Regions from separate parts of the Homo sapiens genome. Here region 2 is linked to region 1. Evidence: fine-mapped expression QTL. A gene starts in region 1. The other region holds a variant in brackets. All regions are shown on one strand. Distances are from middle to middle.

What was found.
Region 2: its variant is fine-mapped to the expression of MYO16 in testis (GTEx, PIP above 0.99).

The regions. Positions count from the first base shown.
Region 1 is chr13:108,623,064-108,633,802 of GRCh38, reverse strand. It overlaps MYO16 (myosin XVI), which reads right to left and starts at 4,192. Exons shown (of 35, transcript NM_001198950.3): 1 at 3,931-4,192. The coding sequence starts at 3,958.
Region 2 is chr13:108,881,540-108,889,539 of GRCh38, reverse strand. MYO16 (myosin XVI) reads right to left here. Exons shown (of 35, transcript NM_001198950.3): 13 at 6,354-6,481; 14 at 1,063-1,168. Among named protein-coding and RNA genes, the nearest start is that of MYO16-AS2, 220 kb to the left of the region's middle. The variant C/T (reference allele first, on the strand shown) is at 3,427.

The DNA of each region.
Region 1 (10,739 bases):
TAGAAAAGTGAGGAAAGCATTTTACTGGAGGTGGTGTTCATCAGCATGAGTGGCTTGAGGAAAAAAATGGGTTTTAACCTTGGTATCATAAAACATGTTTAATATGTGTGATCATTAATACTCAGTGTCAACTTGGTTGGATTGAAGGATGCAAAGTATTGTTCCTGGGTGTGTCTGCAAGGGTGATGTCAAAGGAGATTAACATTCAAGTCAGTGGACTGGGAGAGGCAGACCCACCCTCGATCTGGATGGACACCATCTGATCAGCTGCCAGTGCAGCTAGGATAAAAGCAGGCAGAGGAACATGGAAGAACCAGGCTGGCTGAGTCTTCCAGCCTACATCTTTCTCTCATGCTGGATGCTTCCTGCCCTTGAACATCAGACTCCAAGTTCTTCCGCTTTTGGACTCTTGGACCTTTGACCACAGACTAAAGGCTGCACTGTCAGCTTTCCTACTTTTGATATTTTGGGACTCTGACTGGCTTCCTTGCTCCTTAGCTTGCAGATGGCCTATTGTGGGACCTCACCTTGTGATTGTGTGAGTTAATTCTCCTTAATAAACTCCCCTTTATATATACATCTATCTTATTAGTTCTGCCCCTCAAGAAAGCCCTGACTAATACAACATATAAAGTAACAGATTTTCTGATACAATTCGTTCTTAGGTGTTGTAAATGAATTCTCAGCTCTGGAGAATATTCATTTTAAATAACTTTAACCTTCCTCCTGCTGCAAACAATGCTGCCCCAAACCCGTATGCTTAGAGAAGAGCTGAACCAGGAGAGAAATAGGTCAGGTGTAGTTATTGCAATGCTTCACCCCCAGAGGCACGTGAAGGGAACTCCACAGGTAGACCTCAAGCCTCCGCTTCAGTTCATTAAAACAAAAGTAGTTTCAAGTCTCACATGGCCTTAAAGTTCTGTGAGCCCATGACTCCCTTGAGTTCCATTTCTCATTTCTGCTTGCGCCTCAGCTGGGGCCTGGTCATGTTCATGTGTTACCTCTCAACAGGCATGGGGCTCTGAGACTGGCTCTCACTGCAGATCTGTCTAAAGCTACTTCTCAGCTACCAAGATACATGAAATGGCCACACTTTTTGCTGTGGTGTTCCTACACTTTCCTGCTATATCCTGCTTCCACAGTAAATTTTTACACTCTAGTTTTTAACCCTTCTCTAAAATAAAGTAAAAATGTTTTACAAAGTAACAGATATTATCATAAACTGGAGATAACAACTGTTAGATTAAGTTTCGACCTTGAAGCGTATAATTTTTTCACCTTAGATGATGAGTATTTTCCCAGGTGACTAACAGTTCCTTGCGAGCATTAGCTATTGGTCACCCAGCATCCCACCTGAAGGCTTCCTGTGATTCACTAGGAGCACATGGGATGCTAATGTTGCACATTTCAGAAGGTCCTGCTCCTGCCCTGGAATTCATCCACTTCCTGCATTGCTGTCTGGCTTGAAAGTGAACGTGCTATGGTGATAAATCTGGCTCAGAATGAAAGACAGATATGTGGTAGAAATGCAGGACAGGCGAAGAAGGAATGGAGTGTGACGAAGGCCGATGAACCTCGCCAGCAGATCAGCCCAATATGGGAGACAACAATTTGGGAAAATCTTACGCATCAGGAACAACCATTAAACCATGAATTATGATCCTTATCAATAAACCCTTAGGATACCATGAGGGCATTCACTCTTTTTTTTTTTTTTTTTTTTTGAGTTGGGGTTTTGCTCTTGTCACCCAGGCTGGAGTGCAATGGCGCGATCTCAGCTCACCGCAAGCTCCGCCTCCCGGGTTCAAGCAATTCTCCTGCCTCAACCTCCCAAGTAGCTGGGATTACAGGCTCCCACCACCACACCCAGCAAAATTTTGTATTTTTAGTAGAGACAGGGTTTCACTATGTTGGCCAGACTGGTCTTAAACTCCTGACCTCAGGTGATCCGCCTGCTTTGGCCTCCCAATGTTCTGGGATTACAAGCGTGAGCCATCACGCCCGGCCTTCTTCTATATTTTGTTCATCCTTCCAAGATATAGCTCAAGATGCATTTTTTTCATAAAACACCCTTCACTAGTTCAGCACAGAATGCAGTATAATTTCTGAACTCCTTAACACATCGCACCATTTCTCCAGTAAAGTTAGCATTTCATAATATTCATGCTTCCTTTCCATTTTATAGACTGTCACACTCAAAGCTTAGAAAGCAGTCAGATCTTTAGTAAGTAGTTGCTAATTACTTTCAGAAATGCATCAGGAATGTTTAAATTCATTAATTTTAGATTTCATCTCTTATACTAGCATGCTAAAAGAAATATCTCACAGGCTCCAATTGACATCACCAATTTTCTGAAATGTCTACAATTTTCCGAAATTCTACAATCAAATAATTCAACTAAAACAGAACAAAAGGCAGGAAAGGGCAGACTCATATTGTGTTTGGTGACCAACTGCTCCCTGAATCTCTCACGTCCATGTCACTGTCCCTTTGTGCTTCCACCCATGCTCCATGGCTGCCCTCCACCAGGTGTGTTCAATGTGTCTAATGAGCATCCAGGTTCCTTGTAGGAAAGATGCAGAGTTTTTCCTCTGCAGAGGCACAGCAAGGAAAATAATGACATTCTGCTAGTGCAGTAAAACACGAGAGGCAATACAAAAACCAGTCAGAGTATTGCCCTGTGTCTATTTCTCCAAGAAAATAACCCCAAGAGTTAACAGATTAAAGCAGAAGACTATTCTCAAAATTCTTAAATACGCTGCATGCCTCTAATTCTTATTAGTTAAAGAGCTAATCTGCAAACTTACGAGATGACCAGTGAATCCTTTTGGGAATTGAAATTGTTCTGCAACATGAAAGCATGACATTCTTGGCAATGCTTAAGAGTAAGGCATTTTTATTTCCATTAATCATAGTTTTAATTCCTGTATACATTCTCTACCAAAAATAAGAGAAAGGTAAATATTTTCACCTTCTCAATCATCATTATTTTTTTAGTCTCCTTTAGTGCAAAGCTCAAGATTCATTCAACACATGTGTTCCCTTAATATGCTGCTTCAATTTAACATTGTGATGTCCTTTGGCAGCAAAACCTTAAGCTTAAAAGAAAACCATTTTCTGCAAATGTCATCTGTCACTTTAAGATCATGATATATATGTACAGAAGTTTTCAGAAGTGCTGCAGGGGACAAAAATGTATATCCAGCAAGCCATTTTTGGATAAATATGTCTTCCTCTTCATTATTACCATCCAGAATTGGTTTAGATGGAAGTATTCTCTAGCTCAGAAAATTCTGCCAAAATTTCAGACGCTAAAGAAACCCTTGATAAGCCCAAAAGAGAACCTGGTGACAAACTAAATTTCACCATATGAACATCAGTGGAGAGCATTTGGTACAGAGTCCCTGGAGTCCCTAAGCACCGCAAGGTGAATGATACAAGGACAAAAGTTTACAGTCAAGGATAACCCTAAAGATCACACTTACAAAAAGCATTGAATAGAGGCTTAAGCAGTAAAACTTGAGACTAAAATACTAGCTAAATGACCTCAGCCATATATTAATAAACTTAGTTTTTATGTACTTTATTAACATGTGCCAATGAGCAAAAATATGCTTTTGTAATTTCTTTCCATGTGTTTCTGGTGTTTTTTTTTTTTTCTGGTTGCTGTGTCTATGAATCATTTTTTTTAAAAAGCTGAAGTTTTAAAGATCTCTGTGCTATTAGCATTTGGATCACACTGGAATTATTTCACAATCTAAAATTAAAAGGAAATATATCCAGCCTGTAAAATATTCTTCTAAGTCACCAGTCTATGTCACTCATCTGAATGTGGTATACCAGGAGAACTGCCTTAATTTTGGCATCTGCACAAAATAATACTTCAACAAGACAAATAACCACATGAGCAAGATATCAAGCTTACTTACAGCACTTGATAAAATGATAGTGAGACATCTTTCCATCTCAGACAGGAATCTTGCTACGGGTTCCAGCATTCTCTTCTGTCACAACTGTCGTTCCCAGGAAATGCATTACTTAAAGCCCTTACTCAGGTAACAGTTTACCTCAGGATGCACTATTGCATGGAGGCTCTGTTCCATGATCCTGCAAAAAGCTTCAAACTCATTCTCATTCGGCAGCTGGAGTTAAGATAAGCCTCTCCCCGGTGGGTCTTGAGGCACCACTGGTGCACGTGCTATTGTAGCACCCTTGATTGACACAGCCCCGAGTACCACAATCCCGGGAATAGTCAGCTCTAATTGGTGTTCACATGCAGCCACATTCTGCTGCACGGAGGTGTGCTGCAGTGCGGCTCTCCCGGTCCTGCCTGTTAATGGCTTTTCAATAGCTTTCAAATGGCAGCAAACTAAGCTGATGAGTGGGCTGGAGAGAAGCCACGGATAGAAGGATCCTAAATCTTCTTCGTGCACACTGTCCATCAGCCACATATGACCAGATTCTTAGCTGGTAGTAAAGCGGATTATTTTTAGTTGCCACCAGTTGCTGTGTGTGAATAGGAAATTGATAGCAGGAGCTTAAAATAGCCACCTCTTAGAATCAGAGATCTTTGATCTGTCCTTAGTAATGAAAAACTTGCATTATATTTCAAAACACATCTTTCTGCTTTTCTGAGCAGAATGTAAAACTTAAATTATCCACAAAAAGCTTTTGGTTTGCATAGCTTTAAAATTTAGGATTCTCCTACCTCTGCAGACTGCAATGAATTTAACTGTACAACCCAACTGGATGAAGTAAATCTGACTGAATTGGAATCAGAAAGAAATATATGGTCTGCTAGGGTTTATTGTTATAAAAGTGAATATCATACTCATAATGAAATAGCCATGGTAGCAAACCAAAAGGTTATATTTTAAGTTGTTTACAAATTCAAAGTGATACATTTTTTTTGCAAATTGATACATTTTTATGATGATCTTCTCCAAAGACAAGTTGACATAGTCTAGAATTTATGTTTCAGGTTTGAGGTTATAGGAAAGGTAAACATGAACAATATGTTAAGTGCACCCATCCTTCTGTGGCAGTAACATAATTTTGTATTCCTTACTGAACAAAACTCAAAGAGCAGTGCTTTTATTAAACTAGAAGATTATGAAATTCAAATCTATACAACAAGGGGTCATGACTATTACATTTTCACTGAATAATATTCTAACACATTTTAGTAGCGTGATGTAAAATAATAAGTTGAAGATTTCGCACAGAACAGCCTGATGTCAAATCCAGCTTCTACCACTTACCAGAGTATCAATGTAAACACATTATTTAACCTGCTAAAGCCTCAGTTTCCTCATCTATGCATGTGAAATATAATTCCTAATCTTTATTCTGAAGGTTAGAAATAATGCACATAAAATTTCTGGTTTCTGTTGTTGGTGTTCATTGAAAAGTTGTCATTAACATTAACAAGGAAAAAAACTTATGTATGTACCAAATGATGATTATGGACGCTTTAACTTGGCTTTTCCAAAAATTAGAATGAGGATTTGCAGCCTTCATCAGGAATGCTGATTCCTCATTTATTCGTTGATTCCACAATTAATTATTGAGAGTCACTGTCACAAAAGTCACCATTTTGGGTGCTTTTCAGGAATAAAATATGTCTAAAACAGAGCCTTTATATACCAGGAATCTATAATGTATTTTTAAAGGGTTTCTTGGATGTTTTGTAATGTTTCAATAAAACTGTAAGACACAACTATATCTGTTTCCAACACGGGAAGTAAAGCTCTCTCCTCTTTAAATCAATACAAATCTTTACATGTGCATAAAATAACTGTGAATTTATGTGAATGTTATCTAATGTATCTTCGGGTAAGGTTGTATCCATGTAGATGTCCCTACCCCCTTCTCTTAATACAATGCCGGATAAATAGTATGTTGCCTATATACCTTCCTTAAATGTCTGAATGTCTTAATTTTCTGCAAATTGCATGCCTCTGCATGTATACAAACTCAGCAAACATCTTAAGACAATTGAGTTTAATGATACCATTCACTCTTTAAACTGAAAAAAAGCATAACACTCAGAGGGGCATGTTGTGCACTTGACAAAGAAAATATGTTATTAAAAATATAATTGATTTGAGCCCTACTTTTTTCAATAACTTAAGGCATTTCTTATAAGAACTTTAACCAAGGTACCCCGTGAGAATTAACATCTCATCTCCAGGGGCTCATTATCAAATGTGTTTATTTTTCATCGACTCATGTATTCCATAAACATTTGGCAACTCTTTGTGCTATAAGAGAAACTTGACTCCCTGACCTCAAAGTGCTTATCGTCAGATGAAATAGAGACAATCAAGATAGCACAGTGTTGTGTGCTAGAAACTGTAAGACTACAAATGTAGACCTCTAAAACAACAAGAGCCAACATCTAATCCACTTTGAGGAGTTGAAGGAGGATACACTGAGAAATGTATTCACAGATTTCTTAAACTACTTAGAATGTGCTTTCTATGTATAAACTGTATCTACATATAATTTCCCCAGATTAAGAAGCCCTTTTATCTTTTTGTCTTTGAAACCACATACTCATGCTCTAAACATTGGTAGAACTATGTTTAAACCTATTTACATATTTCATCACTACAAAACAAAAATTAATTTCTAATGCAGGCATTAATACTGAGGAAAATAATTTTGGTTCCATTAACTTTACTTCCTTCATAAAATTTTTTAAAAATGGTAACTTGAAGTTGATTAAAATTTCCTCCTCTATATCCATCCCTGAGAAACTCAACTCACTGTTGGGTGGTCAGAACAATAATTTCAGGACTCCTTCAATCATATATATATATAATATATAATATATATATTATATACAATATATATTTTTATATATATTATATATAGCTATATATAATATATATAATATACATATATACATAAAATATACATATATACATGTATAATATACATATATATATATACACACACATATATATTTTTCTTTTCTTTTATTTTCTCTTTTGAGATGGAGTTTCTCTCTGTCACCCAGGCTGCAGTGCAATGGCGCGATCTTGGCTCACTGCAACCCTCTGCCTCCCGGTTTCAAGCAATTCTCCTGTTTCAGCCTCCCAAGTAGCTGGAATTACAGGCACCCACTACCATGCCCAGCTAATTTTTGTAGTTTTAGTAGACATGAGATTTCACCATGTTAGTCAGGCTGGTCAGGCTTGACCTCAGGTGAGCCACCTGCCTTGGCTTCCCAAAGTGCTGGGATTACAGGCATGAGCCACCATGCCCGGCTAAATCTTATATTTTAAATATGGTATCAGAGTTGATGACAGTAGCAAGAAATGACCAAGGCTAAATTAAATATATGGTTAGCAATTTATCTATTTTGCAGAATATGGTCATTAAGTACAAAATTAAATCCATGCGTTCGAAAGAGGGTATTGTTTTGCATTTCCAGAAAATTTTCAAACGCATAAAGCACAATTATTTTATTATTTTTCAGTATTATTACAATGAACTATTGTTCTTTCCAAATACGAATGCATAATATTTCAAACTCATTTTTGAATAATCAAGAAACCCCTTTTTCTCTTTTATACACCATACAGCTGCTCATTATTCACACTATTTCTGATATGAACACATGATTTTTTTTCTCTTAAATGTTAGCATTATTATACACCAGATTTTTTCAAATAAGGCTAAATTATTTCCCAGCCAAAAACAAAAAAAGAAACTGCAATGATTCTAATGAGAGATAAGCATTCAAAAGTTAGAAATTGCTTAGTAAATATCTTTTAAAATGGGATACATGAGACACAGCTCCAAAAAGGCCCCAGGTGAGATACTACTTAATGTTTTCATTTAAAACCTATTTGGACAATGTAAAACATGTAGTTTCATAATGCCAGTCTGCTGACAGATAATTCCTAATCTAATAGTGCCTGCATTGACATGCTTTATTAAATGAAGAAATTAAAACTAAAGTTTGCAAACATCACCAATTTGGGAAAGGTACGTATTAACAGTAGGTCATGACAAAAATTCTAAATGAAGATATAAATCACACACAACAGTTTTTTGTTATGCAAATTTAAGCTCTGTGATGGGGCATCATTGCCTCTGCCCTGTGAATAGGTTGGGGCTTATAAATATTAGCCTTTGATGAAGTAAATTACACACATTTAGAGACCTTGAGCCACAGGTGTCTCACACACAATGGCTGACAGCTAAATTTATAATTTCCTCTATCACAAATATTGACTGCTTCTGGGTGAATGGAGTCAAGACCTCTCCTGGGAACATAACTCCGGTCTAATAACTTAGGGTCCTTTGAGGCTGAAGCCTACAGAGGAGAAAATATCTGAGTTGTCAAAAAATAAGGCATAAATACACTCAGCTCTTGCTATAGAATCAGCCTCTGGTCAACCCCTGGTGCCTCAGGACCAGGATCAAGCCTACCTTGAATGACTGAACATCCTTGACTCTCTCATAAAGTCCCTGATCTCAGTCTAGTGACTGTGGAGGTTGTTCCTGATTTTGGCCTGCCTGTGAAACCACTAGCTCTCGGATTCAGGACTCCACAGGGCTGTGTGTTCACTTCAGCTTCACGTAGTCTCACATTTCTCCAACCAGAACAAACGGACATTCAAGTTAGATGTGGGCAATTGTGAAGTAAATGAGAAGAAATTTACAATACAGACTTGCACAGTTGGAAAGAAGTAGGGGTTAATAGGAACTGCCCTCTCCATGTCAGAGGGCAGTGAGGGCTAACCCAGCTGAGCCCTGCTTTAGTGACTAAAAGTGAATTTGTCATATAACGGCTAGAAAATATCCCTGGTTATTCAAATACTTTCATAGAGTACTGATGTAGAAAAGAAATGCAATTTTAAAAACTGCTTCAAAAAGACTGAAAATTACTCTCTGTAATACAATATAGATTAATATAATAGCAAATACATGCATGTGCATTGATATGGATATATGAAGATACACACACACACACACACACACACACACACACACACACACACTCAGGCTATATGGGATGTTCTAATTGCTCCTTAAGGGCATTTGGCCACCCACTTCCTTTGGTGATTTTTTTCCCTAATCAAAATGAAATGTTTTAAATTCTAGTGAGGACCAGTTAAACTGGGTATCTAAAGCAGGACATTTGTAAAGCATTTGTAAGGTTTTTCACTTGAATCCGAACAACCACTTTGAAATCTTTCCAGCATATGCGTTACAACTATCTAGGAAGACTTTTCCATTTCAGGTGTTTGACCTTGGACAAAAGTTTGCATATCTTAATGGTGAATAAGAAACAGACCGTTTTGTTTTATGTCTGTATGACTCTACCTAGGTTTATGTGCACATGTGTGATATGGATGAATATGAGCACATGAATAATTAAGTATTCTTTGCCTTGTTCTTCAATCAGTTTGAGGGAATAAATAGTATACTGCAACCAGTTACCAGGAATAGGCAGATAAAAAAAAATTTATTGATGACGAAGCAAGTTTAGCGATTACTGTTGGCCTAAATAAGACAGCTGGGACACCAGGCTGAAATGTTTGAACAGATCTCTATACATTTGTCATTTAGAAGACAATATCTGAAAGTTTTTTGATGATCTAAAAGATATTCTTAATTTTCCCAAAAAGGATGAAAGGAATTGTGAGGCAATTAAATAAGAAGCCTCTCCTTCATACTTTTCCCATTGATATACATGGATTTTTTAAACAAAATATGCCTCTTTAGTTGAATCATGCTCTTATTTACAATTTAATCACACTAAGTTACCTATTCAAATTCCATGCATTCTTCAAATTTACTTCAAGCCCATTTAATCTACAAACTGTTCTTGATTTTTTTATTGCTTAAATTATTCCTGACCTTCTCTAAAGCTTATATTCATTTTTTTCATGTACCAGTCAATCCAGCATTTATAATGCAATGCTTTGCATTTTTCTTAACTAGTTATCATAGGGAAGGCTCTTCCTAGGTAGGTAACTCGTTATTTGAGTCTCAGACCTTCTACTTTTCCTATTTCCTATGAAGTCCAAAACATTAGTGAACATTCAGAGATCAACAAAGGGAGAGCCAGAGAATTAGAATTGCTCTAAAGCATTTTCTGGTGCATGACATATAATGTCTTGAGGAATATTTTATTAAAGGCAGGATTATTGAACACTTAAGTAAACATAACTTACCATACATGACAGGAGAAGAAGAAAGAAATGAAGTGGAGTATAGCCCCTTCTTCATTCAAGCATGTAGGTACAAGTAGACTGAGTGTATATTGTTTTTCAATATCCCCCATGAAGGCGCCATTAAAACGGATCATAGGGAGATCTGGCTGCAAGTTTGACTTTCTTCTTCTAAATGAATTCCCTTGTTGCTAATTTTCTTTGAGTGACAATGGATACAATATAGTCACTAGAGAGGTTCCCAAAATTTAACAATATTTTAAGGTGTTCTAGAAAAAGAATGTACACTGAAATATCCAAATTCACAAATGACATTAAATTATTTCTCCAAACTGAAGTCTCAGGCCTTTTGGATAAGTTTAAGTAGCCCTCATTGTTACGATATTGTTCTCCATAAATATTTTCTCCTATCTGCACAGTTTGGGCTGTCAGAGGAAAGAGCATTGGCAGCCTTGGTTAAATGGTGATTACATAAAAGCATACCTTGGAAGCTGGACGTCGTGTGTGTAGCTCTGAAGCAATTTGGAGAATTACCTCCCAGGCCC
Region 2 (8,000 bases), 260 kb before region 1:
CTGTTAGCCATTCCTTCCAGTGGCCTTTCAATGTCTTCTTCTGATCTGCTATGGTCTGAACAAACCTTTTAACAAAACTTGCTAGAACTATGTATAAACAACAGAATCAGTCTATGGATAAGCACCTGTGGTGGCCTCCTTGAGTAAAATTTCTGAGTTTGATTATGTGGGATGTTTTTAGCTTTATCTTAGCTGCTAACAGGTCTTTTTGCTTCCTCCTTGAATCACGGTCATATTTTAGAATGATGAATTAGCGGGACAGTTAACACTGCAAATGTTTCCAAATAGTTTAAAATCTGTTTTGGCCCCAAAGGTGCATGGCCTGCCCATCGAAGTCTTTAAGGATAACTATTGCCAATTCTTTCAGATACACCAAAGATTTATTATCAGGCCCCAGTGATCCCTCACAATAATTTCTTTTCTGGCCAGCTCCCCAAAATGTCCTAACACACCAAAGTGCACTTTCTTTTTCTTTTCTTTTTTTTTTTGAGACAGAGTTTTGCTCTTGTCCAGCTGGAATGCAACAGCATGATCTCAGCTCACCGCAACCTCTGCCTCCCGGCTTCAAGCAATTCTCCTGCCTCAGCCTCCTGAGTAGCTGGGATTACAGGCACCAGCCACCACTCCTGGCTAATTTTTGTATTTTTAGTAGAGACGAGGTTTCACAATGTTGGCCAGGCCGATCTCGAACTCCTGACCTCAGGTGATTCACATGCCTCGGCCTCCCAGAGTGCTGGGATTATAGTCGTGAGCCCCTGCGCTCAGCCTCAAAGTGCACTTTCTTTGTGAACAACAACATCTACCTATATTACGTGTTTTAGATCCAACTATTCGGAGCAAATACAAAAAGAAAGTATGTACAAAATATTTTAAATATGTAAAATAAATAAATGTTCACTCGAACAGTATTTATTTGAACCCAAGCTCAATAATTTTTTATTCTTTATTTCCACAAATTTTGAACCCCCTTGTATCTATTATGATGTCCCCTCCCCTATTTGTAAATGACAACTGGCTGAACATCTTCATTCACATATTTGCCAACCCAAACAAAAAACTTACATGTTTGAATCTGGAATCCAGTGTGGCCCTGCTGGCGCCAGCCCTGCAGGTGAGGTGTCTTATGATTTGTTTGCTGGCTTCAGACTTTCCTGATCCCCTTTCTCCACTAAGGAAAACAGAGAGGAAAAACATAAGTTTGAAGGAACTTTGCTTCAAAGCTTGTTCCTTTGTTCCTTTGAAACTACTTTGAAGGAACAAGTAAAAAAATTAACTGGAGATATTTCTCAGACACAGAAATGAGGAGGGAATGGCACATCTACTTGCAATGAGTTTGTGGTCTCCGTTCACACTTCAATTTGATTCATTTGTCTGAAATACCCAGTATATGTTGACTGTGTCATGTCCCTGATGGTGTTTCAGATGCTGGCATTACAAATGAATATGACACAAGTTCTGCCATTCAGTATCTCACAGGGTAGAACCACCTAGTGTAGGTGAATTATGCCAGAAAGGTGTCAGGCTGAGAAGAAGACATAACCAACTTGACTCAGCTTAGCAAGTCAACATAAAGTGAGGCGATCCCGAGACAGCATGCTGTGTTGAGACATGCAGGCTCACACATGGCCTTGGGAAAACTGTTCATGCTTCATGGGCCTTACAGGAGAGACGTTACCTCTTCTGTGGAAAAGCTGTGACATCTTTCTGAGCATTCCTTCTCTGTTCTTTGAAATGAACATAAAGTGCCTAGCTACAAAAACTAAGGCAGTAAGGTCTTCAGATGTGGATCTGTCATTCCGCAGATCCTACTAAACCTGACCTGCTTAGGTTTCCTTTTCCGCTTGCTTTCAGTTCTGATGTTCTCTAGTTTGCATTTTTCTTTAATCTAGGAAAGATCACTGAACTTTTATTTATAAGGGCATCACTTTTAATACATCCCAGGCATACTTCATTAACTCACCCAATTTTTAAAAATGGTAAATATTATATTCCTGACACTATATGATATAGGATTGACATAAAATTCCCACAAAATAATTATTATTTCAAAGTGATGTGATCTACAATAAAGTTATTACTTCATCCAGATGAAAAATTCATAAAAACAGCCTTTACTTATTTGGTAACCAGAAAAACTTTTTAAAGCCCTTTTAGGAGAGCTTCCTTGGTTTTCTGCCTGGAAACATCTATTTTAACAAAGTTAATTAACAGTGTTTGCCAGAAAAGAAGTAAGTTGAAATTTAATTATTTGTTTAAAGTGTCGAGTCGTTAATGGATGCTTCCACTCACTTGTGCAGACTTTTGAACTACTGGGGCCTAAGAGTATCAACAAATGAGGTATTAAGTTAATATTAGAAAACAAAATGAAATTTTTTCTGGTCTGGTACTGAGTTTTGGGACATCCATTCCAGGACTACTTGCGTTTTGATTGCTAAATCTTAAATTACCCTTTGTAAGTGCTCGTTCTGGGACACAACTGACACTCAATAATGATCCGTTAACAACTTATTAAGTTGAATTTCAAATGGCTAATTTTATCATATTCGTAAAAATGGAGAAAGCATGTATCTTAGCCCACACAATCAAGGATGTGGCAAAGCTGTATGAAAGCACACACAATTTTGAAAGAAGAAAGAGAATCACTAAAACAGTAAGTCCTAGTAACCAGAGATTTGCTCTTCCATTCTGTATATCAGGACTAGCGATACCGAAAGGAGTTCTCCAGCTTGCTTCAGGCAGACAGTCAGGGAAGGGTCCCCCGAGAAGCTCCGACCCGCCCCACGAGTGCTTACGTCAGATGTTTTGTGCCGATAAGGGAACTTGCACAGGGGGCTTTGCCTAAACAAGCCTGCGGTGGAAGAGTCCGTTCCTTAGCACACGTGCAGCAAGGGAAATCAATCAATATGGAGCAGCTCGGCCTCAGCATGCGCACTGGAAGGACGGGGGGTGGAGCCGCCAGCAGTTTGCGCCCTAAGCTCTGGTGGTATTCAACTGAGAAGGGGGCACCAGGCACCCTGCTTCAGGACCCCTCTCTGCTGAGAGCTTCCCTTTCGCATAATAAATTCTACTCCACTTACTCTCTCGTGTCCGCACGCCTCATTTTTCCAGGTCGTGAGGCAAGAACCTGGACGTAGCCGAGCTAAGGAGCAAAATCCTGCATCAACACCTTCTTGAAACTTGAATGAAGAGGTATTTTTTCAAAATAAGGGGTTGGTACAGGGAATCATTAACTTTAAAAAATGACCCAAAGGAGGGCCGGGCGCGGTGGCTCACGCCTGTAATCCCAGCACTTTGAGAGGCTGTGGTGGGCGGATCACAAGGTCAGGAGATCGAGACCATCCTGGCTAACACGGTGAAACCTCGTCTCTACTAAAAATACAAAAAATTAGCCGGGCGTGATGGCGGGCGCCTGTAGTCCCAGCTATT[C/T]GGGAGGCTGAGGCAGGAGAATGACGTCAACCCGGGAGGCGGAGCTTGCAGTGAGCCCAGATCGCGCCACTGCACTCCAGCCTGGGCGACAGAGCGAGACTCAAGACTCCATATCAAAAAAAAAAAGACCCAAAGCAAAACTAGTTCTGCAGAATATATACTGGATAAAAAGTTCCATGAGCAAATACCTGTCAAAACTGTTGGGTTAAACTAAGATAAACGGGGTTCTTCATAAGAAAACTTGCTGGCCGCTGTGTGCCATCTCCCGGGCGGACTCCCAAAGCGCATGGGCCTGCTGCTCCTCCTTTTCTCCCCTTAGAGCCTTGCTCAGGACCCACGCTTTCAAAAACTGACCTATAACAGCTGCAATGATCATCCTAGAATTAAGTGGGAGCACTCAAAAGTTATGTAAATTCTAAAGAAATAAATAATACATAGAAATAATCTAGTCAAGGGTCTGGCAGCCAGTAAATTCTCAATAAACATTAGTTGTTATTGTCAACAGTGTTAAACTCTCCCTGTCTCACCAATTGACAGTGTTTTTTCTAAGCAACTTTTAAAAAGTTTTCCCTATTTATCAAAGGAAGACCAGGAAACTGGACAGACAAAGCAGATAAAAATAGGGTTGCCTGAGTCTAGAACGGGTGGAAGCCCCCATCTCTGCGCCTTTCTCATCCTTGAGTCCAGAATGAGTGGCCAGGTACAGTAGCTCACACCTGTAATCCCAGCACTTTGGCAGGCCGAGGCAGGTGGATCACCTGAGCTCAGGAGTTCGAGACCAGCCTGACCAACGTGGTGACACCCCCGACTCTACTAAAAATACAAAATTAGCCGGGCGTGGTGGCACATGCCTGTAATTCCAGCTACTCAGGAGGCTGAAGCAGGAGAATCACTTGAACCCAGGAGGCAGAGGTAGCGGTGAGCTGAGATTGTGCCATTGCACTCCAGCCTGGGCAACAAGAACGAAACTCCGTATCAAAAGAAAGAATGGGTGGAAGCCCCTGCCTTGGTGCCTTTCTCATCCTTGAGTCTAGAATGGGTTGGAGCCCCCACCTCAGTGCCTTTCTCATCCTCGTGTCTAGAATTGGTGAGAGCCCGTCTCAGCGTCTTTCTCTTCCTTTGAGTTTAGAATGGATGAGAGCCCCTGTCTCAGCATCTTTATCACCCTCGTGTCTAGAATGGGTGAGAGCCCCTGTCTCAGTGCCTTTCTCATCCTTGTGTCTAGAATGGATGAGAGCCCCTGTCTCAGAGCCTTTCTCATCCTCATGTCTAGAATGGGTGAGAGCCCCTGTCTCAGCGCCTTTCTCATCCTTGAGTTTAGAATGGGTTGGAGCCCCCGCCTCAGTGCCTTTCTCATCCTTGTGTCTAGAATGGGTGAGAGCCCGTGTCTCAGAGCCTTTCTCATCATTGAGTTTAGAATGGGTGGAAGCCCCTGCCTCGGTGCCTTTCTCATCCTTGTGTCTAGAATGGGTTGGAGCCCCCACCTTGACGCCCTTCTCATCCTTGTGTCTAGAATGGGTGAGAGCCCCTGTCTCGGCGTCTTTCTCATCCTTGAGCCTAGAATGGGCAGAAGCCCCTGCCTCAGTGCTTTTCTCATCCTTGAGTCTACAATGGGTGGAATTCCCTGCCTCAGCGCCTTTCTCATTTTTGAGTCTAGAATGGGTGGAATCCCATGCCTCAGTGCCTTTCTTATCCTAGAGTTTAGAATGTGTCGAAGCCCCTGCCTCAGCACCTTCCTCATCCTTGGGATGCATCTGAACCCAGCACGAAAACAACCGCTAGCATGCTGCTTTGAAAACTAGAAAACTAAAGTGTGCGCCCATCAGTCTGTCCCTCCACCCTCCATAGAATTTTTGATGAAATGCATATAAACATATAAGCTCTCATTTTAATATTTAAATAAGCCTTTTGAATTCTATCCAGGTTCTAACTTTATACCATTTTCATTTCACTTTGACTCGAGTTGTGTGCTACTGTACTTATCCGTTGAGTTCCAACCAGCACTACTGACAACAACTAAGGCGCTACCGTGAGTGAGTATTTATAGAGCTTTCCCTCCCTTGTAGAGGTTTGGCTGAATATAAAATATAGGTCTCTGATGCAGATTTTAACATTTAAATGTTTCTTTAATTTTCTATTAATTGGTGAGTTAAATCTAGCATTACATTTCAAATTCAAAAAATATTCTGGGCCAAATGCAGTGGCCCATGTCTGTAATCCCAGCACTTTGAGAGGCTGTGACAAGAGGATCGCTTGAGCCCAGGAGTTTGAGACCAGCCTGGGCAATATAGTGAGATCTCATCTCTACAAAAATTAAAAAATTAGCCAAGTGTGGTGGCATGTGCCTGTAGTCCCAGCTACTTGGGAGGCTGAGGTGGGAGGATCACTTGAGCCTTGGCTGCAGTGACTGGTGATCATGCCACTAAATTCCAGCCTGGGTGACAGAGCAAGACCCTGTCTCAAAAAAAAAAAAAAAGTTTAGGAAGTAGAGTACAGTGAATTGTGAGCAAAGGTAAATAACAAGAAACAGGCTGAGAAAACATACCTTTGGAAAGAAATAAAATGATATTTGGGGCAGCCCTGGATTTTGAAGAACAGTGGCTTAGGTTCCGTAATATTGGTAGTTTTTCTTTCTCCATGTTTTCTTAGGTTCAAAAGCAAAAACTTTTTATCTAAGCTTTAAATCTTCAAAAGGAAATGAGTTTCAGGTTAAGTTTATTAATATTGATCCAGCTACACTTGGGGCTACTCCTAACAGCCAAGATGTTTCTCCTTTGTAACGAGTCAAATGTACTTATTGCAAAGATATACTGGACCTCAAGGTGCTGAGAAAGTAAATAAAGGTAAACCATAGGAAATGAGTACATCTTTACTGCCAAGCCCCGTGGCAAACCTGAGCCTGGCAGACAAGGTTGAGGAGGACTCACCTGAGGATGAAACACTGAGGCCGCTGTTCCCGGAAGAGCTGGTGAAAGGCTCTCTCCACACAGGAGAAGAGGTGAGGAGGCAGCGAGGAACACAGCTTCCCTGAGGAGCTGAAATACAGCTGGGACACCTGGAAAACAGGGCAGCAGCAAGGGGAAAACCTCAGTGAAAAGGCGCCAGTATTCCTCATCCCATAATGAGAGTGACTTCTGTCCAAGATACAGAAGTGAATGAATCCCTAATTCTGAATCTCATTGGTATGTAAAAACATTTGTAAAATTACACCCTTCTCAGCACATTTTCAGCATGCATAATGACAAAATGGAGGCTTATACTTTATCCTTCATTACTTGGTCCACAGGCTTTAATTATTCTGCTGTCTTTAAGAAGAGCAACTCACAAAATATGTTCTTTAATAGATATCTGTGCAGTAAGCTGAAACTGTGGTAATTTACAACAAATACAATTTCTCTCAGCAGTATTTAATTTCAATACCATAAGATAGCCAAGGTTTTAAACTTGAATGTGAGAGGCAGTTGCAGCTGAAATGCATATAAGTTTACAAATTTCTCAGAAAAACAAAAATTAATTAATTTTAGAGAAACGGTGATTTATAATTATTGCCATAATGATTCATTTCCAGTAGTTTTAGTCCTTTTAAATTTCTAGTAAATTTTATTACTTTAGAATAAAAACTCAAGAGTAGGAAGACTTCTTAGTTGTGAAGAAATCAAAGTTATTTTTATTGTACAAAATAACTGGCCTGTATCTTCAAAGATGTCAAGGTCAGAAAAGTCAAAAGAAGACTGCAGAACTGGTCCATACTGAAGGAGAGTCAAGGGCATGGTGGTTCAAAATGCAACGTGCAGCGCTGGCCTGAATCTCTAGCTCTATGGGCATTACTGAGACAATGGGAAATCCTGAACGAGGTCTCTTGATTCAGTGACACCAGTGCATCAGTAATAATTTTCCCATTTTGATGACTGTAGGGAGGTTACACAGGAGAATACCTTTGTTTAAATACACAGTAAACATATTTAAGGTTGATGGGACCACATGCCAGAAAAGTATTTTAAAATGCTTGATGCTCAGGGATCTGCTATTAGTCTGATGGGCTTCTCTTTGTGGGCAAACTGACCTTTCTCTCTGGCTGCCCTTTACAGTTTTTCCTTCATTTCAACTTTGGTGAATCTGACAATTATGTGTCTTGGAGTTGCTCTTCTCAAGGAGTATCTTTGTGGCATTCTTTGTATTTCCAGAATTTGAATGTTGGCCTGACTCGCTATGTTGGGGAAGTTCTCCTGGATAATATCCTGAACAGTGTTTTCCAACTTGGTTCCATTCTCCTCGTCACTTTCAGGTACACCAGTCAGACATAGATTTGGTCTTTTCACATAGTCCCATATTTCTTGGAGGCTTTGTTCATTTCTTTTTACTCTTTTTTCTCTAAACTTCTCTTCTCACTTCATTTCATTCATTTGATCTTCAATCACTGATACCCTTTCTTCCACTTGATCAAATCGGCTACTGAAGCTTGTGCATGAGTCACGTAGTTCTCGTGCCATGGTTTTCAGCTCCATCAGGTCATTTAAGACCTTGTCTATGCTTTTTATTCTGGTTAGCCATTTGTCTAATCTTTTTTCGAGGTT